Linked DNA regions of Homo sapiens: regions 1, 2, 3 and 4 are each linked to region 5. The links come from fine-mapping of genetic effects on gene expression. A gene starts in region 5. Each other region holds a variant in brackets. All regions are shown on one strand. Distances are between the middles of the regions.

Evidence for each region.
Region 1: its variant is fine-mapped to the expression of NAGK in cerebral cortex (GTEx, PIP 0.99).
Region 2: its variant is fine-mapped to the expression of NAGK in tibial artery (GTEx, PIP above 0.99).
Region 3: its variant is fine-mapped to the expression of NAGK in whole blood (INTERVAL, PIP above 0.99). The same link has a PIP of 0.9 or more in monocytes after Pam3CSK4.
Region 4: its variant is fine-mapped to the expression of NAGK in left ventricle (GTEx, PIP 0.91).

What each region holds. Positions count from the first base shown.
Region 1 is chr2:70,518,414-70,523,413 of GRCh38, reverse strand. The region is part of intron 1 of TGFA (transforming growth factor alpha); the gene reads left to right. Among named protein-coding and RNA genes, the nearest start is that of TGFA, 33 kb to the left of the region's middle. The variant C/T (reference allele first, on the strand shown) is at 2,212.
Region 2 is chr2:71,127,440-71,133,796 of GRCh38, reverse strand. It overlaps MCEE (methylmalonyl-CoA epimerase), which reads left to right and starts at 3,568. Exons shown (of 3, transcript NM_032601.4): 1 at 3,568-3,617. The coding sequence starts at 3,578. It overlaps MPHOSPH10 (M-phase phosphoprotein 10), which reads right to left and starts at 3,163. Exons shown (of 11, transcript NM_005791.3): 1 at 3,043-3,163; 2 at 221-899. The coding sequence starts at 3,131. RefSeq lists enhancers at 2,966-3,015, 3,116-3,165, 3,487-4,345. The variant T/C (reference allele first, on the strand shown) is at 3,163.
Region 3 is chr2:71,045,352-71,051,708 of GRCh38, reverse strand. It overlaps the pseudogene TRE-CTC15-1. Among named protein-coding and RNA genes, the nearest start is that of NAGK, 20 kb to the left of the region's middle. The variant G/A (reference allele first, on the strand shown) is at 3,441.
Region 4 is chr2:70,799,062-70,805,418 of GRCh38, reverse strand. It overlaps the pseudogene HMGN2P21. Among named protein-coding and RNA genes, the nearest start is that of FIGLA, 12 kb to the right of the region's middle. RefSeq lists an enhancer at 4,779-5,333. The variant C/A (reference allele first, on the strand shown) is at 3,529.
Region 5 is chr2:71,065,844-71,070,843 of GRCh38, reverse strand. It overlaps NAGK (N-acetylglucosamine kinase), which reads right to left and starts at 2,196. Exons shown (of 10, transcript NM_017567.6): 1 at 2,132-2,196; 2 at 258-342; 3 at 5-103. The coding sequence starts at 2,160. RefSeq lists a silencer at 1,911-1,970.

The DNA of each region.
Region 1 (5,000 bases), 550 kb after region 5:
AGTGTGTTTGCTTCAATCATCTGGATTGTAAACTCCTTGTGGCAAGTCTTGCCTTTGCTTGAAGAGCCCTGGGACACAACATTCACAACGAACGTTCACAATGAGCGTTCACTCCTCTGTCTTAGCCTCCTTGGGATATGGCCAGGCCTCTTTGGGGTCACTGGATGGAAGTCTTTGTGTTCTTATAAAAGTTTCAGGAAAAGCCAACAAAATGAGTTAAGGGTAGGAAAATAAAATATTTCAGGGGTCATCTCATCGGGTGACCAAACAATGCAGGATCCACTTGACAGGCCACTTCAGCAGACTTAAATCCGGGCTTTGGATAAGGATGACAGTTCCTTCATTCCTCATGGATTTTTCAATATTGTAGTGGGAATATTTAATATCATTTAAATAGAAAAACACAGATTTAACTTACCACCCAACTGAACAATGGTACAGCTATTTATAATGGAGTTCAATGGCTTTTGAGAATTGGAAGGATCCTTTCTCATAGGAAGGGACTTTTCATTCATTGCTCTCTGCCCAGCACCTAGACAATGTCCCGCTAATGGTGCAGCAGGTGCTCAGTGAGCACTTGTTGAATGAATGAATGTCAGGATTCAAGTGCTCTGTGCAGCAAACCACCATGGCCCACGTCTACTTAAGTAACAAACCTGCACATCCTGCACGTGTACCCCTGAACTTAAAATAAAAGTTGGCTGTGATCCCAGCACTTTGGGAGGTCGAGGCAGGTGGATCACTTAAGGTCGGGAGTTTAAGACCAGCCTGGCCAACATGGTGAAACCTCGTCTGTACCAAAAATATAAAAAATTAGCCGGGTGTGATGACACACACCTGTATCCCAGCTATTCAGGAGGCTGAGGCAGGAGAATTGCTTGAACCTGGGAGGTGGAGGTTGCAGTGAGCTGAGATCATGCCACTGTACTCCAGCCTGGGCAACAGAGTAAGACTCCATCATAAAAAAGTAAATAAATAAAAAATAAAAGTTGGAAATAAAAATTCAAGTGCTCCTCATCTCCACTGAAATTAGAGTAAGAACCAAGACCTAGAGCTGTAGCGGCAGGGATCTAGACTAGAAGTAAAGGAATTCCCGAGGATCTGCAGGTTTTCCCATTCCCCATCTGTACACCCTCACTACTCACTACCCAGCCCCTAGTCCAAGTCTTTGATGAGACTTTAACTCTGTTTTCAAGCTGGTGACCTCTTAGAGAAATTCAGTTCAACATAAATGTATTAAAATCCTATGTAGGTGCGTTAGGCCAGGTGTAAGGATAGAGATGATTTAGCCACAGCTCCTGACCGCACTAGAGAGGAGAGACAGGTAAGATGTAAAAACTTCTGAACTGCAAGGCAGAATAAAGTAAGGATTCCTCTGAGGAAGAAATGATTATTTCTGACATTTGAGCAAGGCTTTGAGAGGCCAATTTGATTCCCATGGGTAGAGGATGGGATATGCCGACTTGAGAGATCAGCATGATGTGAATGAAAACTGTCAATAGGTTCGGTACGGTGGCCTGCGCCTGTAATCCCAGCACTTTGGGAGGCCAAGGCAGGTGAATCATGAAGTCAGGAGTTCAAGACCAGCCTGGCCAATATGGTGAAACCCCGTCTCTACTAAAACTACAAAAATTAGCCAGGCATGGTGGCGCGTGCCTGTGGTCCCAGCTACTCGGGAGGCGGAGGCAGAAGAATCGCTTGAATTCGGAAGGCAGAGGTTGCAGTGAGCCAAGATCGTGCCACTGCACTCCAGCCTAGGAGACAGAGCGAGACTCAAAAAAAAAAAAAAAAAAAAACAAACAAACAACAACAAAAAAAACTATCAATAGTAGCAGCTACCATTTGTTGCATGTTTATTGTGTGTCACTCAATATACCACATTTTTCTCATGTGTCTCTCGTTTAATCTCTAAACAACCCTGTGCAAGAGTTGGATATCTTTATCTGCTTTTACAGTGAAGGAAACTGAGGCTCAGGCAACTAAACTAAAGTCAGCAGCCATAAGAAGTTGGGTGAGGATCCTAGTAGCATGAACCCAAGGCACCAAGTTGGGAGTGCCAATTTTTGTGCAGGGAAAAGGGGCAGTGCTGGGCAGCTGGGGTCAGAGGACCTGACAGGAGGGAATGGGTGGAGTTTAGGTGGAAACGAGGTCTAGGATCAGGTTATGCATGCTAAATCTCTACTCAGGACTTGGGGCTGGGTTCTGTCTCTG[C/T]GCTGGGTTCTGTGAGTGGTACAGAGCCCATGGAGAGCTTAGAGGATAGGAGTGATTTCATTCAGCAAGGTCAGTCTAGTAGTAGGAGCAAAGATTTTTTTTTTTAAGCTGTTGGCAAGAAAACCAGTCTAACAACTATTTTGATAGCACAGGGAGAGATGATAGGGCCTGAATTGGGGCAGTAACAGCAGGGATGCAGGGGGATGGATAGGATGGACGGTGTGGAGGCTGGGTGTGTAGGAGGGCTTGGCTTGGATACTGGGTGAAGGAGAGGGAAGGGCTGACAATGACTGCCTAGTTATCAGTCCCGCCCAGAACCAAGGAAGAGGTGGAAGACATGAGTTCAATTTTGAACACATGATCTGGGGTACAGGCCTTGTGGAGAGTGGTGGAGGTTGGAGATAGTGTTTGGGCATGGAAGCAGGGGAAGCATCTATGGGAATATAGGGTCGGTCCGGTGCCTTGGTGGGCTGTAGTGATAACTTCAACAGCCTACACTTGTCTGCCTTTGTTGAAGTAGGGAGGATTCCATTTTTCTCGGGTAGTTGCTGTCCCACGTGACTTGAACATTTTAAGGGAAAGTCAAAGGTCTCAGATTTCTCTTTTTTTACTTAATTTGCTCACAGTATGTAGGTGCTAAATAAATATTTGATTAGTTAACATAAGTAAATAACAATTTTTTTTTTTTGGAGTGGGAGTCTCGCTCTGTCACCCAGGCTGGAGTGCAGTGGCACAATCTTGGCTCCCTGCAATCTCCGCCTCCCAGGTTCAAACAATTCTCCTCCTCTGCCTCCCAAGTAGCTGGTATTACAGATGCCCACCACCACACCCAGCTGATTTTTGTATTTTTAGTGGAGTCCGGGTTTCACAATTTTGACTATTTAAACCCTCAAAAGGCGTAAAAGGCATGCTATTTCAAGATCAGTCCATGGAACATCAGTAGCCTGCAGCTGGGCGACCCCGGGGCCTCAAGTAAAACCCTTCGTTGAAGTTCCCTTAGTGATTTCCAAAGGGAGGAGGGTCATGACCACCTCCTCATCATCCTGAACTTCCTGGAAGTTATGATGAAACAGGACCAACATGAAGCCCCATCAAGTGCTGTGTTCAGTGGGTGCTCATGGTGACTTATGGACCTCATGTACTCTATTTCATTTTGTTTCACTTAATCCTTGCAAGTCCCATGAAGGGCTGTTATCCTTGTTTTATGGATGAGCACACCAAGCCTTAGCAAGGGTACATAATAGAGCCAAGATCTCACAGTGAAGGAGTGGCAGAGCCAGGATTTGCACCCAGGCCTGATGGCAAAGCCCCTTTCTGCTGTGCTGTGACAGGCTAGAAAGTGGTAGGGGGTTGTGGTGCAGGCACCCATCTGCCCATCTCTCTTGCCTCCCTGATCCTGAAGATTCATTCTGAATACTTTGTTTTTTGCTATTGTCAGATATGTTTAGATGGATATGGAAAATTCCTATGAGCTTTCAGGTAATGCTGGATCATTTCCTGTGATGTCATAATCATGAAGTATTTCCCGAGATTTTTCTAGTTGGAACTTGCTGCTGTCCAATGGAGATGCCACATGGCTACTTTTGACCTTAATATCCCAATGAGTTTATGGATAGTCCATGGTACGCTCATCCTACCAGCCTTGCTCATAGTCCTCCTCTGCAGGGCCTTCCCTTTTTCCTTCTTAATCAGTTCTTACCCTGAAGCCAGCATCCTCACCTGGCTGTCAACCTCTTGGATTTAAAAATATTGATGAAATCATACAATTTAGTGATTTTTGCTACGCAGTTAAAATCCTGCCATGCTTGCAAATAAAATTTGAATGTTGGGATATAATTCATAAGGGAAGATGCCATGAACCTATACTATCTGGCCCTGGGTTCTGTGTGGCCCATTTCTTTATATATTTATGCCTACATGGGAGCCTTTGCAGACCTCTCCCTGAGCAGCAGGATTCCCACCGTCTACGTACCACTAACTACTTCCTGTTCCTTAGGACCTGCCAGGTCTAAGAATGGTAGGGGAGGAAGGGGGAAACCTGCTGCCCTCTGAATACCCACACTCCCTTCTGCCCTGCCCTCTAGCACAATTCCTATCCTCCCGCCCTGAGCGTGTTCTTCATCCAAAGGCCTTTCCTCACCACCTCGTCTGAATCCAGAACATCCTTCATCCAAAAGGACCTGCTGCAGCCTCTTCATCCTCCCACATCCCCCTGAAAACAAAAACTTACCCTTCATCCCTTCATGCAGGAAGTCTGGCTTAGAGGATCCCAAACAGGTGAAAGGTAGAGCTCTTGATATTCTAGAGGGAGCAACTGATCCATGCAGTGGAGTACATAGGGGCCTGAAAGCAAACCCCAGCCCCAGCAGAGGCCAGAGCAGGACATGGTCCACTCTGCTGAGGTGGTCAGGGGCCAGAGGATGCTCCTCCCAGCTCCAGGCACTATAGCTGAGTGTCCACAGAAGAGGTGGTCACCAGGCCAATGGGTGGTTGATGATGAAGGGTGTCTGACGCTGAAGGCACAGCCTGGGTATCTGTGCAGAATTGCTAGTCCCATGCCTGATTGAGGAGTTGGAGTGGGGGTATCCTGCTCTGGGGCCCAGGGGAGAGGGGTGTCCAGCCTCTCTTAAGAGCATTTCCCATTGACACATCAGCACATAGGTTTTGGGATGGCTCCACTTCTGGGGACTCATGAGCTAAATGGGTGAGCCTCCTTTTTACCTTGTTTCTGTTGGGAACATTTACCTGAGTACCAAACAGCTGAACGATAAGCATGGCAACACTTGTCC
Region 2 (6,357 bases), 62 kb before region 5:
TAATTATTAGGTGAAAATGGCAACTAATAACACTACCACAAAATTATAAGACCAACTGGAACATAAATTGAATGGAAGTACAGATTCATTTATAACTGATAAGATAGAGCACAATATTTCTTATCACTAAATCTTCTAACTACAATTAAATCTCTCCTAGAAAAACAGAAGAAAAGCTAATTTGAGGAGGAAAGTGCTCTCTCTTCTCTCAAAACTTTACCTTAAGTTTTTTACTTCCAAACAGTCCCCCTTCATCTTCATCAGAATCAATATCTTCAAAAAAATCAATATCTTCCTCCTCCTCATCATTATCATCTTTTCGTTCCTCTTCTTTTTCTATGTTTTCTAAATAGGCCTCCATTTCAGAGAGTTTGAAGAATTTATCATCTACTATGGACTTTTCTCTTGGTTTTCCCTGTCCTTTGTTTTGCACCTTGCTCTGCTGTTCCAATTTGCTGATATCAAAGTCAAGGTCAGAATCCTCATCACTGAAAACGGGGCTTTTCCTCAGATCAGATTTGCTTGAGTTTTCAGCTCTCTCACCCATTTCAGGATCATCATTACCCATGTCGGACACTTCCTCCTCCTCTAAATCTTCTAGGTCCTCCTTGTCATCAGCCTCTATCTCTGAACCATCCTCTTCACGTTCCTGTTCTTCACTCTCTGGGAGAAGACTGATATCTTCATCATTAATTGTTTCACTAACTGCATTCTGAAAGTATTGTAAAATTGGTTCATTTTGCAATTCCAGTTGTTGCCAAATCTGCTCATCATCAAAATTTTCTATCACAAGTTTTTGCAAGGGGCTTCCATGGATCCTACCATTCTCTAATATTTTATTAAAGTCATAAAGCACTTTTGTTAAAGAAGTGAACTTTGATGCCAATCCCTCTTGAATCCTATTGGGAGGAATTAAGTGAGATTTAGAATTACAGGTAATAATTTCACAGCACTCTTAATAAAAATAAAAAAAACCCAACTCTTTTGTAAAATAAAATTTGAATGAAGTATAAGTATAGATTCTGGCCCCCAACAACATATAAGCTGATGAGCTACACTGATATATAAAACCTGTCAACCAAGTATCTGTGAATCGGCTGTATAGATTTTAGGCAGGAAAACCATTATAAATCTATTTGCTTGGAGATATATAGTGAATTAACCTTAAATTATCAATTCTGCTACATTATATACCACTCCATTCATTTGTTCACTTATTCATTCAATGATCAACATTTGCTTTGGCTACAGTGGTCAAGGAAAACCTCTCTTAGATGTCACATCTGAGAGGAAACCTACAGATAAGGAGATAGTCTTATAAAGGTTGGGAAACATGTATTCCAGGCAGAAGAAATCCTCTAAGATGCAAATCCTCTAGAGGTGAGCTTGAGGAAACAAACAGGTGACCATGGCTAGAGTGTGAAGGAGGCAGAGGGTGAAGCTGGAGAGACTGATGGGAGCCAAATTATGCATGGTTCAGGAGTAAGAATTTGTCATTTAAAGTGTAAAGAGAAAACATTTTAAGCAGAGGGATGAAATGATGATTTACACGAAGGAAGGAGAAAGGGACGAGGGAGGAGGAGGAAAGTACAGTGATTAGAAGGTTGATGCAGCATTCCAGCGAAAGGATAATGGTGATTTAGACTGGAGTTAGAGCAGTGAATATGCTGAGTATAGTTTGGAGGTAGAACTGACAGGATTGCTAAAGAATTAGATATAGAATAGAGAAAAATGAAGACATTAAAGTAGCAGCCTAGTTTTATGTTTGAGTACCTGAAAAGACAGAAGTGCCATTTACTGAGATAGGGAAGGCTTGGGTGGTGGTGTCAGGCCTCTGAGCTGAAGCTCAGCCATTGTAACCCCTGTGACCTGCACATATATGTCCAGATGGCCTGCAGGAGCCAAGAAGTCTGGGGCAGCCGAAAAACCACAAAAGAAATAAAACAGCCAGTTCCTGCCTTAATTGATTAATCAACATTACAACATTCCTCCATTGTGACTTGTCCCTGCCCTACCTTAACTGATCAATCGACCTTGTGACATTCTTCTTCTGGACAATAAGTCTTATGATCTCCCCACCATGTACCTTGTGACCCCGTCCTCCTCTGCTAATAGATAACCACCTTTTACTGTAATTTTCCATTACCTACCCAACTCCTATAAAGCAACCCCTTCCCCATCACCATTAGTTGACTCTCTTTTCGGACTCAGCCCACTTGCACCCAAGTGAATAAACAGCCTTGTGGCTCACACAAAGCCTGTTTTAGTGGTCTCTTCACACAGACGCGCTTGACAGGTGTAGCATGGGAAAAGGACTTCAGGGGATGGCAGAGTATAGGTGGGTAGAAACAACAATTCTATTAAACAGACACAACAGCTCTATTTTGGACGCAGTGAATTTGAGATGCTTGACAGTACCAAAATTTTAAAAATCGTTAAAAGTTGTACAGTGTGGATATCCCAGTTGTGTGCTACGGAATTCAAACTAAGCTCAGTCTGTAGTTGCTGTGAGCTGGGAACTCAGGGAAAGGTTGGGGTTTGAAACATAAATGAGTAATAATTTCATAGATCACATTTTAAATTCTTCAACAAAATACATATAAAACGCTTGTGTTGGGAAGAGACATGGAAGTTCTATTTCTGAAGAAGCTTAGTCATGGGGGGTGGACAGACAAGTGACAAGTTCGTACTTTCAATAAAGTATGCTAAGCGCTAAGTGCTTTGAGAGCACATAGGAGGAAGGAGAAACCAACAGTCTGTGTGTAGAGGGATGGGGGCGTAAGAAGCCCAAGGGAAGCTTCTAGGTGTTAACAATTGAGGTTAGAGTGATTTCAGTAACACTCAACTGAGAGATCCATCTATACAAATTTTAACAGTTTTTAAAATTTTGATAGCCTAGGAAAGCATAAACTCTGAAATTTGGGGAAAAGCGATTTTACGTTTCCCCTTACCTTCCCCCAGCTCCACAATTTGCCGGAGGCCTGCAACCCGCGTCCACGTGAGACCCCGGTCGCACCCCGAGCCCGGGATCTGCGCACTTACGTGAGGAAGCACTCGGGCCGACCCGTGGCTTTGCCGACTTCCGTCAGACACCGCTCCAGGGTCCGTCGACGCCAGACCTGCGGCGCCATGGCTGTCAGCAACTCCCGACACAATGCAGCA[T/C]GCAAGGGAAGGGAGCCGCCCGGAAACCGCGCGGCAAAGATGCGCCCAGCGCAACTTGGATTTCAGAGCCGAAAGTTCCGCGGCGCACAGGTTCCGGACTCGCCCTCAGCCAGAGCCAATGGCAGCGCGAGCGCTTTCGCAGGAGGGTGGGAAACAAAAATCTCCATGGTCAGCCCAAACGCCTTTCAACTCTCTCCAAACTTCGTTTTGTATTTTTCAGGGGCCCACAAAGGGTGACCCGTCCTGGCCTTACGTTTCTGTTTTAGCTAAAGTAGGCCCGTTGTAGCAGGAAAGCAGCGACCTTCGCCACGCCCCTGACCTTTCTGTCCCCGCCCCCTCTGCCTCCCGCCCCGCCCTCTGCCGCGCGTCTCTCAACCTCCGTGGCTAGTCTTGACGTGGCGGGTTGCTTTCCAAAATGGCGCGGGTGCTGAAGGCTGCAGCCGCGAATGCCGTAGGTGAATACCGGGCACCGGCGACCTTCGCCATGGGACAGGGAGCGTGGGAACGGCGGTCGGGGGCGGAGGAGGCCTCGGCGTGGCCAAAGCACCTTGATCTAATGTCCTCCCCCGGGGGCGCGTTCCACAGCAGCTGCTGTCACTTAGGCAGAGGGTGCCTTCCAGAAGCGCCACCGCTTAGTAGCGGGGATTGCCTTGTGCATGAGTCCCATTTCCATCCGAGAGCTGTGCGCCTTGGGCTCTGCACCTTCCAGTATGTGGGCGGGAGAGTCGAGGGAACTTGCCCGGCAGGTCAGGCAGGGCAGGGACAGAAGTAAATAGAAGCGGATCGGTAAGTTATTTTACCGCGCACCAATAAAGAGACTGGGGAGAAACCAGAAAGGAGAGCACGTTCCGTAAAAACAACAACTACTAGTCGGCCGAACTCCAAGCGTGACCAGCTTTCTGTTGGGAACACTCAAAGGTCAGTGGTGTAAAGAATACAAAAGGAGTGGTTTTTCCACGTGCACTAATATATTTATCGCGTACACAGATAAAAGCATGTGGATTTGGAAACTTTCTTGAGTTCTCTCCCCCTTCATTTTTTTTAAAATATGTACATAGAATCAGTTATGACAGAAATAACTGTAATAATTGTCACGTTTTCTGACTCACTTTCTCCTCTTTTTATCCTTTTTTTTTTTCTCTTCCTCCTTTTATGAGAGGGCAAGTATTTCCCTTAATCTGAGATTCCCTATTAGGAAGAAGGTGCCAAGTGGTAATGCCCCAGAGTTACTCCGGGACATTCGTGATAAATCCTTCTAGCACCAGAGCCCACATTCTTAACCGTAAGGCATACCTTCCTCTTAGGTGATACACAAGATAGGAACGTAAAACTATAAATAAATGAATATTTGGGAAAAGGCATTTTTATGTCTATTTTTAGAACTGCACACTTTAATGATTGACAGTTTGGGAAAAAGTATGACTTCCAACAGGTCATATACATACTGCAAGAACTCAATACAGATAAAGGTGCATGTTTGTTTTGTACTTACATACACATCTTGGCATAAAGGAAAAATGAAGACAGTGTATTCCAAAGATTGCCTTTGATTTGTCCTATTAAGATACTTGAAGCTTAATGTCTCCACTTGTGTGTGTGTGTGTGTGGTTGAATATACATAAAGTAAAATTTACCTTTTTTTTTTTTTTTGAGACAGAGTCTCACTCTGTCGCCCAGGCTGGAGTGCAGTGGCGTTAGCTCACTGCAACCTCTGCCTCCCAGGTTCAAGCCATTCTTCCGCCTCAGCCTCCCGAGTAGCTGGGATTACAGGCACCCGGCACCACGCCCGGCTAATTTTTTGCATTTTTAGTGGAGACGAGATTTCACCATGTTGGCCAGGCTGGTTTGGAACTCCTGGCCTCAGGTGATCTGCCCACCTCGTCTTCCCAAAGTGCTGGGATTACAGGCGTGAGCCCGTCTCTACTAAAAATACAAAAATTAGCCGGGCGTGGTAGCACACGCCTGTTATCCCGGGTACTCGGGAGGCTGAGGCAGGATAATCGCTTGAACCCGGGAGGCGGAGGTTGGCGTGAGCCAAGATCGCGCCACTGCACTCCAGCCTGGGCAACCAAAGCGAAACTCCGTCTCAGAAAAAAAAAAAAAATTGCTTTTTAAGACTGAATAATATTCCATTGTGTGTGTATACCACATTTTGTTTATCCATTCGTCTCTTGATAGACATTTGGGTTATCCCCACCTTTTGGCTATTGTAATACAGCTATGAACGTGGGTGTACAAATACTTCTGAATTCCCGCTTCTTTGGGGGTGTGTATACTCATAAGTGGAATTGCTGGATTACATGGTAATTCTATGTTATGGCCCCTCTTTTAAGGAACATAAAACTTCGCCGAAAAACAAAAGCACAGAAAAATCAGAGTGAACACGTAGAAAAGTTCTGAAAATGGAAATTGAACCTGTTAGGTGGGAGACAAGAATGACCAACTTACATGACTGCATAGGTTTACTTTCATTAATCGTCTGTAAATGGGCTAACAGAAATGTAATCTGTTTACTTACTGTAATGAATAAAAAAAATTGATCATAGTTTGAAACAAGTTGAAGATATATATATGGTGCTGTGAAATTAACTGGTCAAATGTTTAAGAGAAAACTTACCAGACTAACTTGAAAGCACTTCTAATGAATGACTTTCTAAATACGTATGTTTCCTCAAACCAGATATTCAGTGAAAATTCAGACTTATGTTCGGCCAGGCGCGGTGACTCACGCCTGTAATCCCAGCACTTTGGGAGGCTGAGGAAGGTGGATCACCTGAGGTCAGGAGTTCAAGACCAGCCTGGCCAACATGGCAAAACCCATCTCTACTAAAAATACAAAAATTAACCGGGCGTGGTGGCGCGCTCCTGTAATCCCGGCTACTCCGGAGGCTGAGGCAGGAGAATTGCTTGAACCTGGGAAGCAGAGGTTGCACTGAGCCAAGATTGCGCCATTGCACTCCAGCCTGGGCTACAGAGCCAGACTCGTTTCAAAAAAACAAACAAACTTATTACGTGTTCTAAAATTAGATTATGTGAAGGTCGCACAACTTTGCAAAGATGCAAAGAAATGAATTGTACACTTCAAATGGGTGAACTTTATGGTATATAAATTTTAAGTCTGTTTAAAAACTATTAAGAGATAAAGCTGTTAAAAAACCTATTACAAGTGATTATTCACTTTTATAGTACTTTTTA
Region 3 (6,357 bases), 20 kb after region 5:
AGAGCGAAAGAGAATGATATGACTCTCAATATCGCAGGGGGTGTACACCCCTCCTGTAATATTGTTCTTAATACCCTGGGAGGGAGAGGATAAGATTACATTGAATATCGAAGGGAATGTACACCCTCCCCCTCTGATACCCTTCCTAATATCCAGGGGAAGAGAGGATAATTTTACTCCCAATATCGCAGAGACACTACACCCCACCTGTGATACTGTTCCTAATATGCAACGGGGAGAGGATGATACTACTCCCAATATCGCAGGGCTGGTCACATCCCCAGTTACATTTTTCCTAATATCTAGGGGAGAGACAATTATATGACGGCAAATATTGCAGGGTCTGCACATCCCTTCCTGATATTGTTCCTAATATCCAGGGGGGAAGAGGATGATATCAAATATGAAAGGGGGTGTACACCCCCCACCCCTACGATGTTGTTCTTAATATTCATGAGGGGAGACGATGATATTACTCCAAATATCGCAGGGGCTGTTGACACCCCCTGTGATATTGTCTCTGATATCCGGGGGGGAGAAAATCTTATTACTTCCAATATTGCAGGTGGTGTATACCCCACCTGAAATATGGCACCGAATATCCAAAGAGGGAGAGGATGGTATTAATACCAATATCGAAGTGTGTGTACAAGCCCCTTGTGATATGGTTTTTCATATCCAGTGGGCGGGAGGATGATATTAGTCCCAACATCCCAGAGGGTGTACACCACCCCTGTGATACTGTCCCTAACTTCCAGACGGGAGAGGATGATATCACTCCCAATATCTCACAAGTTGTACATCCCCCGTGATATTGTTCATCATATCCAGGGAGGCAAAGGATGACATTCCATTGAATTTCACGACAGGCGTACATGCACAGTGTGATATTGTTCCTAATATCCAAGAAGGGAGAGGATGATATTACTCCCAATAAAGCAGTGGGTGTACATTACCCCTGTGTTATTGTCTCTAATATCCGGGGCCGGGGGAGGTGGGGAGAGGATAACATTCCCTCAAATTTAGCAGGTGGTTTGATGCCCCTTGTGGTGCTGTTTTAAATATCCAGCGGGGAAGACAATAGTATAGCACTATTTTTGATAGTCCGATTCATCCGCTCCACCTTTCCGGAACTCTGAGGCTGGGAGGCGGCATGCAGTTTCCGTGTGATCCCCAATACCTTTGCCGTCTTCTGTACCAAGTCAGCCACAAACACTGGCCCGTTATCTGAGCCTACCCATAAGGGCAGTTCAAACCTAGGAATAAGATCTCGAAGAAGCAGATGGGTTACTTCACGAGCTTTCTCAGTTCATGTTGGATAAGCCTCCACCCACCCAGACTAGGTACACCCAAGAACTAGTAAATACTTGTTACCTCCACACTTTGGCATCTCTCTGAAGTCTACCTGCAGATCTTCAATGGGGGCTGCTGCATAAGCTTGTATGCCGGGCGGAACAGCTGGACCTTGCCTCGCATTATGGTGTCGGCAGGTAACAAACCGCTGCCTCATGGTTTTGGCGAGGGCTGACAAATGCGAGATGTAGAAATACCGGCCTAACAACTTTTCCAGTGACTCCTGACCTAGATGGATGGTTTCATGCACAGCCAGTACAACTGCACCTCCTAGGAGCTGTGGCACAGCTACTCTCCCATCTGGTAACTGAATCCATCCTTCCTCTGTCACTTGTCCTCCCCTTTACCTGGAGAAAGTCCTTTTCTTCTTTAGAAGAAGTAGGTACAAGATCAGGTGTTTGAGGGAGCAGAGGGGCTGTGACTGATGCCTGGAAGGGGACAGATGCTGCTTTTTGAGCCTCTGAGTCAGCGTGGGAATTCCCCAAACCCAGCAAGGTGGAAGCTTGCTGATGCCTAAGTGCCACCTTGTGGGGTTTCCATACTGCTTCTAATAATTGCAAGATTTCTTGTTGATATTTTATGTCTTTCCCCCCAGAGTTCAGTAGGCCCTTTTCTTTCTATAATCCTCTACGCACTTGAAGGGTTAAAAAGGCATACCGAGAATCAGTGTCAATGTTGACAGTCTCACCTTCACTGAGTTCTAAGGCCCCAATTAAAGCAATGAGTTCAGTTTTCTGGGCTGAAGTGGCCTGGGGCAATGATCTGGCTTCAACAACAGTATCCAGGGCTACTACTGCATCACTGTATATCCTGCACATCTCTCTCCTTGTGGGTTGATGAAGCTGCTCCTGTCCACGTATAGTTCCCAGTCTACTGATGCCCAAGGCTGGTCCCGAAGGTCAGGTCTGCTAGAGTCAACTGAATCCAACACTTCTACACAATCACGCTTGACAGGCCGCTCTGATACCGGGAGCAAGGTGGCAGGGTTTAGGGTGTTACAAACTTCAGTGGTTATACGGGGATTTTCACAGAGCACACTTTGGTACTTGATGAGTCTAGCATTCATTAGCCAATGATGTCCTTTAGTGTTCATTAAAGTCACCCCAACATGGGGGGCCTTTATGTTCAGGTTTTGCCCAAAAGTCAGCTTATTTGCTTCTTGGACTAGCAGGGCAGTTGCTGCCAAGGCCCTCAAACAGGGGGGCCATCCTTTAGAAACTCCATCTAGTTGTTTAGAGAGGTAGGCCACCGGCCTCGGCCAGGGCCCCACAGTTTGGCTTAAAACTCCAACTGCCATCTTTTCTCTTTCTGACACATACAATGTAAAAGGCTTTGTCAGATCGGGTAGCCCCAGGGCTGGGGCTGACATAAGTTTTTCCTTTAACTCATGAAAGGCTTGCTGTTGTTGGGATCCGCATTCAAAAGTTTCCCTGTCCCCCCACCCCCAAACTTTGTGAGGTCATACAAAGGCTTGGCTAATACTGCAAAGTTTGGGATCCACAGTCTATGAAACCCCACAGCTCGTAAGAATTCTCTCACCTGCCTTCTGCTCTTAGGCTCTGGTAGATTGCAAATGACCTGCTTTCTTTCTGATTCCAGGCCGCGTTCCCCCTGTCGGATACTAAATCCCAAGTAAGGTACCTGCTATCAGCAGATCTGAGCTTTTTTCTTGGACACCTTATACCCACAGTCCTCCAGGTGCCAGAGTAGGGCATCCGTTCCCTTGGCGCACCCGACTGCCATGGGGTGTCCCAGCAAAAGGTCATGAACGTATGGGAGCAACACGCTCCAGCAAGGAGACTGACAAGGAATTGTAATTCCCAAAGTTCTTAGGTGCTTGAGATGGCCCTCGATACCTTGAAGAGCTTCTCTGGGGACCGGGTCCTGGTTTTGCCTAACCAGCTGGGCCCCAGGCTTAACTTGTATGAGTATGGGGGCTTGGTTGACTGCCAACCCTGGAGGGTTGTCTTCTGCCCGTACTCTTCGCCACCACTTAGCCAGAGGTGATCTTATCTCTCCGCCCGGCTCAGTTAAAAAAAAGTCTCCATTCCTCCTCTCCGGGGATGGTAAGGGTCATAATGACTCCC[G/A]TTCTGGGGAATTTTAGCAGCAAAGACAGTTGCTCTCAGCTTGCTGAGCAAGTCCCTTCCCAACAAGGGCAAGGGACAGTCAGGCATGTACAAAAACTGATGAATCACTTTATGTCCTCCTACAGTACAAGTCTGAGGCCAGCAGAAAGCTTGCTTTGCTGAAACCCCCATGGCTCCGATGATATCAATAGTCTTTTTGGATAAGGGGCCGACCAGGGCGGTTACTAGCGAATGTTCAGCACCGCTACCTACAAGAAAATCAATGTCTCTACCCCCGACTGTCATTCTGACCATAGGCTCTTTGGGGACACTTGAGCCTGGTCTCCCTCAGTCCAATAACCCTTCTGCCAGGTTGAGCAGGGCCCCTTCCTCCTTGTCCGGGGCCTCCTGCTCTGAGTCACCTTGTTTTCTTTTGAGCTGAGGGCATTTGTTCTTCCAGTGTCCTATTTCTTTACAAGAAGCACACTGGTTACACTGCAAACTCTGACAGCCAAGCTGAGTTTCATTCCCAGGGCCCCCCCTTCCCTTGCCTCCTTCGGAGGACCCCTCTGATTGCTGCAGCTGACAACCAGGTCGGTGTTTCGCCGGGCCTGATGTCCATTCTCTTTGCGGTTTTCCTCAAGGCTTACTGCAGCCCTGTTTACAAACACCTGGTTGGCTATTTCTAATAATTGTGATGTATTCATCCCTGCAAACCCAGCCTGTTTCTGCAGTTTTCTTCCAATGTCTTCTGCGCTTTGACTGACTAAAGCCATGTGAATCATGCGCTGATTTTCAAGACTATCAGGATCAAAGGGAGTATACATACAATAGGCCTCACACGGTGTCTCGTAGAATTGTGCTGGACTTTCTTCTTTTCCCTGAATGACCTCAGAGACCTTGTTAACGTTTGTGGCCTTCTGTGCTCCCCTCTTTAATCCTTCCAAGAGAGCTTCCCTGTCTCAGTTTAGCGGTTTAGCCTTTGCATAGCCTCTCTTTCATTTGGGTCCCACTGGGGTTCGGTTCCTGGTAACTGGGTCCTTAGGGGGGTTTTTGATAATCAGCTGGTGCATGTTCCTCTAGCCACTTAGTTGCTGCTTGGAGGACTCTCCGCCTTTCATCTCTGTTAAAGAGGAACATGAGCAACTGGTGCCAATCAGCCCAGGTGGGGTTGTGGGTCTGGATAATAGTTTGGAGCAAATCAATTAGAGCTTGTGGCTTTTCGGTATTGCACAAGGTATTGTTTTTCCAGTTGAGAAGGTGGTCAGAGGTGAAGGGCTGCTACACAAAAACACGCCTCTCCACCAAGTGACCATCCTCATCTATCCCAGTATACCGCTGCTCTCTCAGGGGCATTTGTATCCCAGTTTCGGGTCATAAACCAGCTGCCAAGGGAGGGGTTTCTCCCGAGTCTCCACCTCCTCTCTTATCTGCTCTGGGTGGCCTAGGGATATGCTTGTCTTGGGGAGGCACAAGCACTGTGGGCTCAAGAGTGGGGAGCCTCTTTCCCTGGTAAGGGGAAGGCAGCACTGGGATCACTGGTGCCATCTCCTGTAATGGATCTTCTGATGTTGGGTCGAATAGAACTTCAGGAGTTGATTTCCCTGGGTGGGTGGAGCCGGATCCTTCCTTAGCTATCTGTCCCTTTGCTCCTAGTACTGCTGCTGCCTGGCCTCTTAGCCACTGTGGGGGGTCTAGCACCAGCTGTCACCAAGTGTCTATGTATGGGAACTGGTCTAGGTATCCTTTACCAGTCACCTTTTGCCACACCTTAGAAACAAGGGACCTGTCCAGGCTTCCTTCTGATGGCCAACCCACTATTAAAGTTGGGCAATCTATCTCTCACAGAGTTCCAAGTTCCCCTGGCGGTCTAGTGGTTAGGATTCGGCGCTCTCATCCACCGCGGCCTGGGTTCGACTCGTGGTCAGAGTGAACCAAGTAAACGTTCTGGATGAGCCAAAGACAAAACCTCTCAGACACCGGATTTAAAAAGGAAGAGAATTCTTTTTCGACCGGGAGCGTCTGCAGACTCGCGTCTTAAGAGCCGAGCTCCCCGAAGGAAGACAGACTCCCTGGCCCTTTTCAGGGCTTACAACTCTAAGGGGTTCCACGTGAAAGGATCGTGATGGATTGAGAGCACATGTGCTTAGAGTTGGGCGGGGGGGGGTTCATCTTTTCACCTCGGGCCAGCTCATCAGTGGCAACAACTGCTCTTGACACTGACTTCATCCTGTTCTTTTTCAACTTTTACTTCCTTCTCCTTTTCAGAGACAGGAGACAGTCAGAAAAGTGGCTTCCCTCCTCAGGGCGACAGGATGATATTACTTCTACTATCGCAGGGGGTGTACACACCCCTGTGAAACTCTTCCTACTATCCAGAGGGAGGGAGGATGATATTACTCCCAATAACGCAGGAGGTGTACACAACCCTGTGATATTGTTCCTAATATCCAAGGTGGGAGAGGATGATATTTCTCCCAATATCGCAGGGGTGTTCACATCCCCCATTACATTATTCCTAATTACTAGGGGAGAGACAGTTATAGGACAGCAAATGTCTCAGGGTCTGTACATCCCTTCCTCATATTTTTCCTAATATCCACCGGTGAAGAGGATGATATGAAATATCAAAGGGTGTGTTCCCTCGACCCCCCCTTGATATTCTTCTTAATACTCATGAAGGGAGACGATATTACTCCAAATATCGCAGGGGTTCTTCACACCCCCTGCGATATTGTTTCTAATATCCGGGGGAGGGGGGCAGAAAATACGATTACTTCCAATATTGCAGGTGGTGTATACCCCAGCTGGATATTAGGAACAAGAGCACAGAAGGGATGTACACCCAGTGCGATATTTGGAGTAATGTCATTGTCTACCCCTGGCTATTAGGAACAACATCACAGAGCGGTGTACATTTTCTGCGATATTGTGAGGA
Region 4 (6,357 bases), 270 kb after region 5:
TGTTTGTATGTATATATATTTTTCTTTGTATGTTTTTCTATTCTTCATTTTAGGGTTTTCCTAGCTTTGTGTCATCAGGAAGCAGTATTAAGTAACATGGCCTACTTTCACTACTCACAATAGCAAAGACTTGGAACCAACCCAAATGTCCATCAATGATAGACTTTATTAAGAAAATGTGGCATGGCCAGGCGCAGTGGCTCACGCCTCAATCCCAGCAGTTTGGGAGGCTGACGCGGGTGGATCACGAGGTCAGGAGATCGAGATCATCCTGGCTAACACGGTTAAACTCCGTCTCTACTAAAAAAAATACAAAAAATTTAGCCGGGCGTGGTGGCGGGCGCCTGTAGTCCCAGCTACTCAGGAGGCTGAGGCAGGAGAATGGCGTGAACCCGGGAGGCGGAGCTTGCAATGAGCCGAGATCGCGCCACTGCACTCCAGCCTGGGCGACAGAGTGAGAACGCTTTTGAAAAAAAAAAAGAAAATGTGGCACATATATACCATGGAATACTATACAGCCATAAAAAAGGATAAGTTTATGTCCTTTGCAGGGACATGGATGAAGCTGGAATTCTTCATTCTAAGCAAACTAACCCAAAGACAGAATACCAAACACCGCATGTTCTCACTCATAGATGGGAGTTGAACAATGAGAACACATGGACACAGGGCGGGAACATCACACACCAGGGCCTGTTGGGGGGTGGGGAGCTGGGGGACGGATAGCATTAGGAGAAATACCTAATGTAAATGACAAGTTGATGGGTGCAGCAAACCAACATGGCACATGTATAGCTATGTAACAAAACTGCATGTTGTGCACATGTACCCTAGAACTTAAAGTATAATAAAATATAATAATAATAATAAAAATAACATGGCCTACTTTTTTGGAATTTCCTGAGATTCTCTTTGTGGCCTAGTATATGCTCACTCTTTATAAATGTTCTATAGGTGTATTTATTAGATTAAGCTTATAATTTTCATTATGCAAACATTTTACATTCTCATTTATGTTTTGTCTACTCAATCAATCAGTTTCTCTGAGAGGATTTTTTAAAACTCTCTCATGATGTTTATCATTTTGTCACATTTTCCTCTTATTTTTAAGAGCCTTTATTTATATACCTATATATTATATATATATTATATATATATTTCAGTTACATTTTTTTCCAAGCCGAACTGTATCCAGCTTTATTAAAGATACTTTCCATAAACAATCATGGTATTTCAGGCAGGACATGGAAGACAATTGTTAACAGTATGCAACAACTTTCAAACTCCCTTCTTCAGTGGACTGCCAAAAATCAGAAAGCCACTATAAAACCCAATGAAGTCTTCATCTGATGCTCTGAACAGGGGAAGTTTAGAGTGAGGGTTGACATTTCACATTTAGCATGTTGTTTAACAACTTTTCACGAGGTGACCCTGACTTTCAGGAAGTGAAATGAAAATGGCAGAATGTATCTGAAGATCCACAGTCTAGGAACGGAACCACTGCTCTTTAGACAGGTGCCATCTCAGTGGCACCACTGGAAAGTCCAGATTGCCTGACACACTGGTAACCAATGACTGGGGATGAGGTCCCAACAGATGTCTGGGCTTAAGAGAGTTAAGTCTATGCTGAAAGATAGAAAGGGAGAAGAGGACATAAAAATGAATTGCTTTTTCCAAACACAAAGCTTTAGTGCCAAGGTACTCATGTGTATCAAAGTCAGGGAATCCCTCCTCCCGGGAGCCAAGAGGAAGTCTCCCAAAACTAGAAGGGAAAGGTGTTTTCCTCACATCACTCCAGCTTTGGAGACATTCTATTAGTGACATATAGCCCTTCCCCCAGAAAAAACAACGAAGTGTTCTGTGTGCTAACAACATAATAGCTTTAAAAAACAAAGTAAAACAAAATTCTGCATTTTTATAAAACTTGATAAAAAATAGTATTTCAAACTGTACAGTCACCAGAAGTACACAGTTATCAAAAATGCACACACTTCACTTGGCCTCTCCATCACCTTCAGCTTCCCTGGCCTGGTCTGTTATGGCATCTCCTTTTTCTGCAGGGTAATTCCCCTCCTTGCCAGCATCAGCTTTTCCCTTTTTCCCTTTAGGTACCTTCTCTCCCTTCTTTGCAGGGGCCTTTTTAGGCTTGGGCTCTGGCTTTGGAGGAGCAGGTTTAGCAGACAACCTTGTGGATCTTCTCTGAGGTGTGTCCACCTTGGCTTTATCTCCTTTAACATCCCCTTCGGTCTTCCTCTTGGGCAAGGTGGCGGCGGTGACAGCAGTGGGACTTAGATGCTGGGCCCGGGATGCAGCGGCGCACAGGCTTTGATCGGTCGGGGGGTCATTCTCGCCTCTTCTTCTTCCATTTCAGTTACTTTGTTTAATGTCTAAAGATTCATAACTAACTCCACCCAACCAACCCCCACTGTTTTTTGAGACTGGGTCTTGCTCTGTCAACCAGGTTGGAGTGCAGTGGTGAGATCTTGACTCACTGCAGCCTTGACCTCTCAGTCTAGGTGATCCTCCCACCTCAGCCTCCCAAGTTGCTAGGACCACAGGCGCATGCCACCACACCTGGCTAATTTTATTTATTTTTTGTAGAGATGAGGTCTCACCATGTTGCCTAGGCTGGTCTCAAACTCCTGGGCTCAAGCAATCCTCTTGCCTTGGCCTCCCAAAATGCTGGGATTACAGGCATGAGTCCCTGTGCCTGGCCCAAGATCCAATAACTATTGTTTTGTTGTTGTTGTTTTGTTTGTTTGTTTGTTTGTTTTTGAGATGGAGTCTTTCTCTGTCACCCAGGCTGGAGTGCAGTGGTATGATCTCGGCTCACTGCAATCTCTGCCTCCTGGGTTCAAGCGATTCTCCTGCCTCAGCCTCCTGAATAGCTGGGATTACAGGCATGTACTATGCCTGGCTAATTTTTGCATTTTTAGTAGAGACAAGGTTTCTCCATGTTGGCCAGGCTGGTCTCGAACTCCTGACCTCAAGTGAGCTGCACACCTCAGCCTCCCAAAGTGCAGGGATTACAAGCCCAGCCACCAAGATCAATTAACTATGAAATCTACTTCGGGAATTTTACTTTATATCAATAATTATTCCTTCAAGGAATGTTCATTGCACCTCTACTATGTACCAAGCACTCTTCTAGATTTTAGGGGTTCAACAGTGAACCAAACAGACAAAAATCCCAGCCCTCATGAGGCTAGCATTCTAGCAGGGAGCAGAGGTAGTTAGTACATTCAGCCCCTTCTCACAACCCCAGGAAGGAGTCCTGTGGAGAGGTGATGGTGTGGAGCAGCAAGGAGCTGTCATAATCAATCCAGCCAACCTTGCCCTGCCGTCTAAAGGTAACAAAGAAGTGGCTGGACTGGGGCGGGTAAACAGGAAGGACTCCCTCCTGCCAACTCCTCAGGGTCAATTCTCATGTCCCCGCTGCCCCCTTCTCTCCTTCAGGGGAGGTTCCGAAAGCTGCAGTTTCCTCAAGAGAGAGGCAGAGGAATGAAGTTCTCCATAGACTGACTGGAA[C/A]CATCTGGGGAGACAGAGTGCAGTTGTCGGGTGACCTGGGGGACGTGGCCGGCTTGTCTCACTGGAGGGCCTGCCCGCCCTGCCTCCACTGTGGGAACTCTGTACAGCTGCCACTCTCTGTGACCTTGGGTTGTTTTGGTGGCACTAGCAGGCTGTGACAGACAACTGCCACCACACAGGGTATGATGTTGACACTCAGGTGCCCACAGCCTTCTCTCCCAGAGATTTTTAGTCTTTCCGGGCATGAGGCTCACCGTGGAGTCTGGGGTCCCACTCATTGTGCTTTAGGGGACAGCCTGACTCTAGCATAAGTAGGAGAAGCTATAGACATTACAGTTGTTACGAAATGACTCTCAGACCTGGTTTTCCAGGGGCAGGGAGAAGTTTCTCACATTCTGGAGGAAGATGTAACAGCATTTTGAGGATGAGGGATGTCACTGGTTTAGAGGAAAATCTACACTTGCTTAGTCAGTAATTTTGATGTCTACCAACAAATGCCCAGCCCTTTTCATGCACTAGATACACACAGCATTCACTGCTCTGACACATGAATTTGGGCCTGGGACCAACCCTTCCTGTGTGCCTCCACCATGCCTCTCAGAAGGACCCTCTCTTTTGTGTATTGTTCTCACTTATAAGAGCCAGTTATAAATTTTTCCACCTTGCCAGCCAGCAATTCCTGCTGCAGCTTAGGCAACCAACTCCAAGGACCTCCCCATCCCCAGTGAGAGTCCCAGGCCCCAATGAGAGTCACGGAAGAGTAAGGATGCCTTGGCTTCTCTTGGGAGGCACGAGGGTCCATGTGCTTTAGGATAGCCAGAGGGTCCATGCCATCTGGCTTCTTCCTGCAGGACAGGGCCCCAAGCAGCAGGCTGTCCATAGTGCAACCCTGCCTCACTCCCCAAAGCAGCTGCATCTCACTGCCTCTTGAATCTCCCCAAAGCCCTGCTTTTGTTGCAATCTTTGACTTCTTAGACCTGACAAGCATTTTCCACTCTCCACCATACAGGTGCCAGGACTGGGATCCCAGGCCCTCTTCAAGATGACCCCAATGAGCTTTTCATCACACTTCTGCCATGGGGTCACTGGAACTGAGCCAAGCCCCTTAGTGTCTCCTCAACCAGCTCTGATTGTAGCTTCTGCATTGGTGCTCTGACCACCCCTTAGCCTGGGTCACTTAGGATTTGTCTGTATGATAACCACATTTCTGGACTTTCTATTTGGTTCATAAATCATGCTACCATTAACTAACAACATGGTGGGGGTTATGGGAGGCAGGAGAGCTTGGAGGTTATAGACCCAGGCCCTGAGGCCAAACACTCTGGGTCCGATCCCATTTTCATTCCTTTCTAGCTGGGAAAGCTGGTTCATTGACTTTCATGTTTCAGTTTCCTCTTCTGTGAAATGGAAGTAACTACAGTACCTCCTTCGTGGGGGTGCTGTGACAATTAGGAAAGTCAATGCATAGGACGAATTTAGGATAGTGCATGGGACACGGATCCCACTGTGCAAGCATTAGTCGTGATTGTTTTGCTGATGGCCTACTTCACTCCTCACTTCACTTCTGAGGAAGGCTCTATTAGAACCCTCACTTTACAAATGGGGAGATAAAGCCCAGAGAGTTTGGATGATGATGTGGTTTGTCTCTGTGTCTCCACCCAAATCTCATCTTGAATTGTATTCCCATAATTCCCACCTGTTGTGGGAGGGACCCGGTGGGAGATAATTTGCATCATACTGTTCTCTTGGTGGTGAATAAGTCTCATGAGATCTGATGGTTTTATCAGAGGTTTCCACTTTTGCATCTCTTCATTTTCTCTTGCTGCTGCCATGTAAGAAATGCCTTTCATCTCCCACCATGATTCTGAGGCCTCCCCAGCCATGTGGAACTGTAAGTTCAATGAAACCTCTTTTACTTCCCAGTCCTGGGTGCGTCTTTATCAGCAGCATGAAAAGGGACTAACATAGTAAATTGGTACCAGGAGTGAGGTGTTGCTGAAAAGATACCTGAAAATGTGGAAGCGACTTTGTAACTAGCTAACAGGCAGAGATTGGAACAGCTTTGAGGGCTCAGAAGAAGACAGGAAAATGTGGGAAAGTTTCCAACTTCCTAGAGACTTGTTGAATGGCTTTGACAAAAATACTGATAATGATATAGACAATGAAATCCAGGCTGAGATGGTCTCAGATGGAGATGAGGAACTTCTTGGGAACTGGAGCAAAGGTGACTCTTTTTATGTTTTAGCAAAGAGACTACTGGTATTTTGCCCCTGCCCTAGAAATTTGTGGAACTTGGAACTTGAGAGAGATGATTTAGGGTATCTGGTGGAAGACATTTCTAAGCAGCAAGGCATTCAAGAGGTGACTTGGATGCTGCTAAAGGCATTCAGTTTTGAAAGGGAAGCAGAGCATAAAAGTTTGGAAAATTTGCAGCCTGACAATGCAATAGAAGAGAAAATCCCATTTCCTGAGGAGAAATTTGAGCTAGCTGCAGATATTTTCATGAGTAATGAGGAGCCAAATGTTAATCCCCAAGACAATGGGGAAAGTGTCACCAGGGCATGTCAGAGACCTTTGTGGCAGCCTCTCCCATTACAGACCCAGAGATCTAGCAGGAAAAAATGGTTTTTTGGGCAGGGCCCTGAGTACCTGTACTGTATGCAGCCTAGGGACTTGGTGCCCTGCGTCTCAGCTGCTCCAGCCATGGCTGAAAGAGGCCAACATAGAGCTTTGCAGTGGCTTCAGAGGGTGCAAGCCCCAAGCCTTGGCAGTTTCCACGTGGTGTTGAGCCTGCAGGTGCACAGAAGTCAAGAATTGAGGTTTGGGAAC
Region 5 (5,000 bases):
TCACCAAGCTTCGCAGCGGTACCAGAGGATCCACCCCTGCTTTCCGTTTGGCCCTGTTCACCATCTCATTGATCCTCTCCACACACTTGTCTGTCCCGATCAGCTGGCCCCAATCAAGGGAAGAAGGAGTTACAAAGGCTTACAGAAGCTATGTTGCCCCCACAGGCTGCTCTGTGAGTCCCAGCCACCACCTCAACAGGAATTACAGAGAATAAAATCAGAACCAAGCCCTCTGATCCCCTCAGTGTGGTTTTTACCCAGTGGTTTGTGCTCAGTCCATCTGCTTCTGCCAGGATCTTCCCATCCTCTGAGACTAAAAGGACCTCGGATCGTGTGCCTCCCCTACAGAACACAAGAGGGCACTTGATCTTGCTCGGAAAAACCCACAGAGAGAGCTAAGCTTGTGCTGTCCACACTGGCAGAGCCCAGTATGATGGAGGAGACAGCTTCGACAAACTCAATCACCACTCCCAAACCCGCCTCTGTGGTTCAGTGTTTGAGTGCTCTTTAACTGAAACATAATTCTCACTCCTCTTCCCTTGGGGATGTCCTCCTTATCCTGCAAGACTCTACTTACGCTTCACCTAGTCCTCGAAACCTTTTCTGAGGTGTGGCCCACCCCAACGAATTAGTTAAGTCTCCGTTAGTTAAACCTTCATAGTGCCTCCAAAGTTATTAAAGTCTCCTCTGTATGAAGTGTGTGTTCAGACGCTTTGTGTCCGCCTCTCACTAGACTTCAAGCTCCACTGGGTCAAGCTCCTGATCACTTACTTACCCTCTCAGAACGAGCACAGGAGCTGGCACAGGCAATGCTCAGCAAACACTCCTAAGAAAAATGGCACATCTCTCTGCTTCCCTCACAATAGCTAAAGACTGCATTTCAAGATCCAGCTGCCAAGGTCTTCAAGACACCTTTGCTAGAAATGCTGACCAGATGGCAGGGTGACTTCATACATACTTAAGCAACTAAACCTTCAAATGTTGATTACTGGGGGTCACAGTAGTTCACAGGGAGATCTGTGGTGATGGGATATATGTTTCTTTATTGATCATTACTTTTAGGAATGGCAGAAGAAGACACTGAAGACCGCTCATCAAACTCAAAGAGGACATGAAATTTCAAGGGGGTAGTTAATACATGAGGTGGCAGATTCCACATCCAAAAGCATGTCTTGACGAACTGGAAGAAACGGGTCATATCTTACAGATGACTATAACAAGGATGAATGCAGACTCCTATACTGTTTTTTTTAAGTGCTACAAATACAGGATGGGAAAGATCATTCCTAACAATTCATGTGAAAAGACTTTGGGGTCTGTGAATCAGCAGTGGGGTGTGGCTGCCAGAGAAGTGAAAACAATCACAGATTCGAAAGTACAGTGCCCTGGCTGAGAGGCCAGCGACCCCCATTATTCCCTGATTTGACAAACTCAGATTCACAGAATGTTGCCACTGGCAGGGACATAGCGATCTTATTTATCCCTATCCTCACTTTGCACATACGGTAACTGTAGCCCAGGGAGGGTAAATATCTTGTCCATGGTCATACCCAGGGGCAGAGCTATTACAAAAAGTTCAGTAAACAAGCTTCTGAGCAGAAAAATGCAATCTAGTGAAAGCAGCATGGAAGGCCAACAGGGATGGAGCGGTTTTCAGACATCAGGACAACCTAGTACTCTGGCTCGCAGCTGCTCCAGCTCCCGGATAACCTCAGCCAAGATCTTTGTCCCGCTTCTCCCCACTCCCACTCCCCACCCTGCCCGCGCTCAGCAATTTCACACCTGACACCTGTTCTGCAAAACTCTGTCCGAGGTCAGGAATAGGAAAAAGGAGCTGCTTCTCCAGCTGAAGACAGCGGAGTGGGTGTTTCGTGGAAGAAAGGGGCGTGGTTCCGCCAAGAAACACAAAGGATCCCCAACCCGGGGTGTGGCTGTTGCACAGGCAGAGTCCCCGTAAGGCATACAGCTGTGCGCTCCAGGGCGCCCCTGCGCGTGCACACACCTCTTCACCGCAAGGTCCCGCCGCCCAAAGTGCCCGGACGCCGAGGATCAAGGCCACCAGCTTGCCAGGCTGGCCACGGCCTTCCGCCCCGCCTTCGGGCCCAGGCTCCCTCCGCCGGGCCGCACTCACCCCTCTACACCCCCATAGATCGCGGCCATGCTGCTGCTACCGTCGCTGCTGGTCCCGCCGTTTGCGTCTCTCCCCGCCTGACACCTCCTTCCCTCCAGCTGTCTGGGCACCGCCCCACTTCCCGTGACCTCCCGCGCAGCCAGCTGACTCCCTGTGCGCGTGCGCATGCGCGGGGCGGGGCGCCGGTAGGAGCCGGGGATGGCTGCGTCCCTCAGGCTGTCTTCCTTCTGGTGTCTCCTCCAGGTGGAGCGACTGCGGTCCGCAGCGGCCCCTCCCGTCCTCCTGGATCCTGCTTCCAGAGATGGACACTAATCCCAAGAGGAGGAATCAAAGAGGGGTATCTAGGTCGGTCGGACCCTTAGGACACATCACTGACCTGCCTGCCTGTAAACGCCCGGAAGTTGCTGGCAGTCCCGCGTTAGGTTGCGCGTGCGCACTGCTCTTGGCCGCGTAGGTTGTGACGCATGCTCGGCCAGACCCCCGCGAAGCTGTGGGCTCAGGGACCTGCGCCCATGGACCTGTAACAGAAATTACTGTAATGTTCTACTGAACATCTGCCACGCGATGGCGAGTCACACGGGCACACACGAACACTCGCTCAGATTGTTGCCCTGCGCTCGTGTGAATGTACGGATCCGGGAGGAATTGGGACCTAAACAGACAAGCCCTCGAGGCGGTCCCGGCAGCCCTGAGGAGGGAGCCTTCACCTCTTCCTACCCACCCAGTTTACTTCTTGTGGAGGATATTTGCAGGGACATAGCCCACTGGGAGAACTAGCAGATACGGCTTTACAAGTTTTTTATTGCCTTTCAGCCCCCATTCCGCTCCCCTTCCTTGCGCTGCGTCGGGAAAGGGAATGGGATCCCTAGGGGTGCAAATACAGGCCAAGTCAGGGAGAGCTGTGGCTCCTGAGGGCCTCCTCTGGCTCCTCCGGGAAGTTTTGGGCCCTCAAGGAGCAGCTTCGCGGGCCAGGAGGGCGGTTAGCTGCCCTTGGCATCTTTTTGGGGAAATCAGTTGGCCTGTCGCGGGTCGAACTCTGTCCCCCTTGACTGCCTGCCATCTTCTGGAGAAACCCCTAATAGGCTGCTGTGTCTGGTTATGCTTTAGTGAGAAAATTAGGCTTTTTAAGCTTTCTCATTTCCTACCCTACCACGTTGTAATTCACAAAAGTAAAAAGTAAATCACTACATGATAGACTCTGTATCATGTATTCATTTATAGAATATATATCATATATTCTATATCAGATGGAGAATATAATAGAGGGTAGGATTTTTTTATGCCTGCCTATGGCATTTTTTTAATTCACAGCACTTTAGAGCTGGAAGATTATCCAACATACACATTTTTAGAATTACAGTTAGTAGATTGTGGTGCAATTAAACTGGGCAGGATTTTTGGAGACTAGATTGTAGGTGGATTTTGAAATAATTGTTTCTGTCCTGTACTACTGCAATGAGCCATGGGACGTATGTGTATAAATATTAAGTTTGTCTTTGTATTGCTTGTTTAGGCAAGCAAGCAAAAGGGAAAGTGCCCAGGTTTAAGACAAGAATTGAGTTCACCATTTACTAGCTGGATGAGCTTGGGTGACTTACAGGTAATTGCTGCAGCCTCTCCTCTACAAAATGGAAATGATAAACATCTACCTGCTGGGGCTGACGCAAGATTTAAATGCCAAAAGAGTTTTGGAAACCATAAAGTACTTCACAGATCTTAACTAACTTGTATTTACATTACCAATTAGTGTGTGCTGTCCTGCACAGTATCCATATGTGAATACTGAGCACTTGAAATGTGGTTAGTCCAAAATGAGATGTCCCGTCAATGTAGAATACACACAGGATTTCAAAGACTTACTACAAAAAAAGAGTGTAAGATACCTCATTAGTCACTATTATATGAATCACATGTTGAAATAACATTCTGGATGTAGTAGATCAAGATTATAGATTACTAAATTTTGCCAATCTATTATATTTTTTAGTGTCACTACTAGAATATTTAAAATTTTGACCTACATATTTCTGTTGTACAACCCTGTTGTCTCTATCTGGACCATAATATTTCAAAGTCACTGAATGCCTATTTATGAAATAAATAATGGCCATATAATTGATTTAAAGAAGAAAGTAGCCGGGCGTGGTGGCTCATTCCTGTAATCCCAGCACTTTGGGAGGCCGAGGGGGTGGATCACCCAAGATCAGGAGTTCAAGACCAGCCTGGCCAACAGGGCGAGACCCTGTCTCTACTAAAAATACAAAAGTTAGTTGGGCGTGGTGACAGGCGCCTGTAATCCCAGCTACTTGGGAGGCTGAGGCAGGAGAATCACTTGAACCCAGGAGGTGGAGGTTGTGGTGAGCCAAGATTGTGCCATTGCACTCCAGCTTGGGTGACAAGAGTGAAACTCCGTCTCAAAAAAAAAAAAAAAAAAAGAATAAATAAAATACGTTTATGTTGTACATTATAATTCTTTTTGTTTGTTTGTTTGTTTGTTTGTTTTGAGACAGAGTCTTGCTCTGTCGCCCAGGCTGGAGTACAGTGTGGCGTGATCTCAGCTCACTGCAAGCTCCGCTTCCCGGGTTCACGCCATTCTCTTGCCTCAGCCTCCCCAGCAGCTGGGACTACAGGTGCACGCTGCTACGCCTGGCTAATTTTTTGTATTTTTAGTAGATACGGGGTTTCACCGTGTTAGCCAGGATGATCTCGATCTCCTGACCTTTTGATCCGCGTACCTCGGCCTCCCAAAGTGCTGGGATTACAGGCATGAGCCACTGTGCCCGGCCTTGTACATTATAATTCTATAGAGCTCTTTTATGTACCTTTATCTTGTTTGATCATCCTAACAACCTTATGAGAATGACAGATT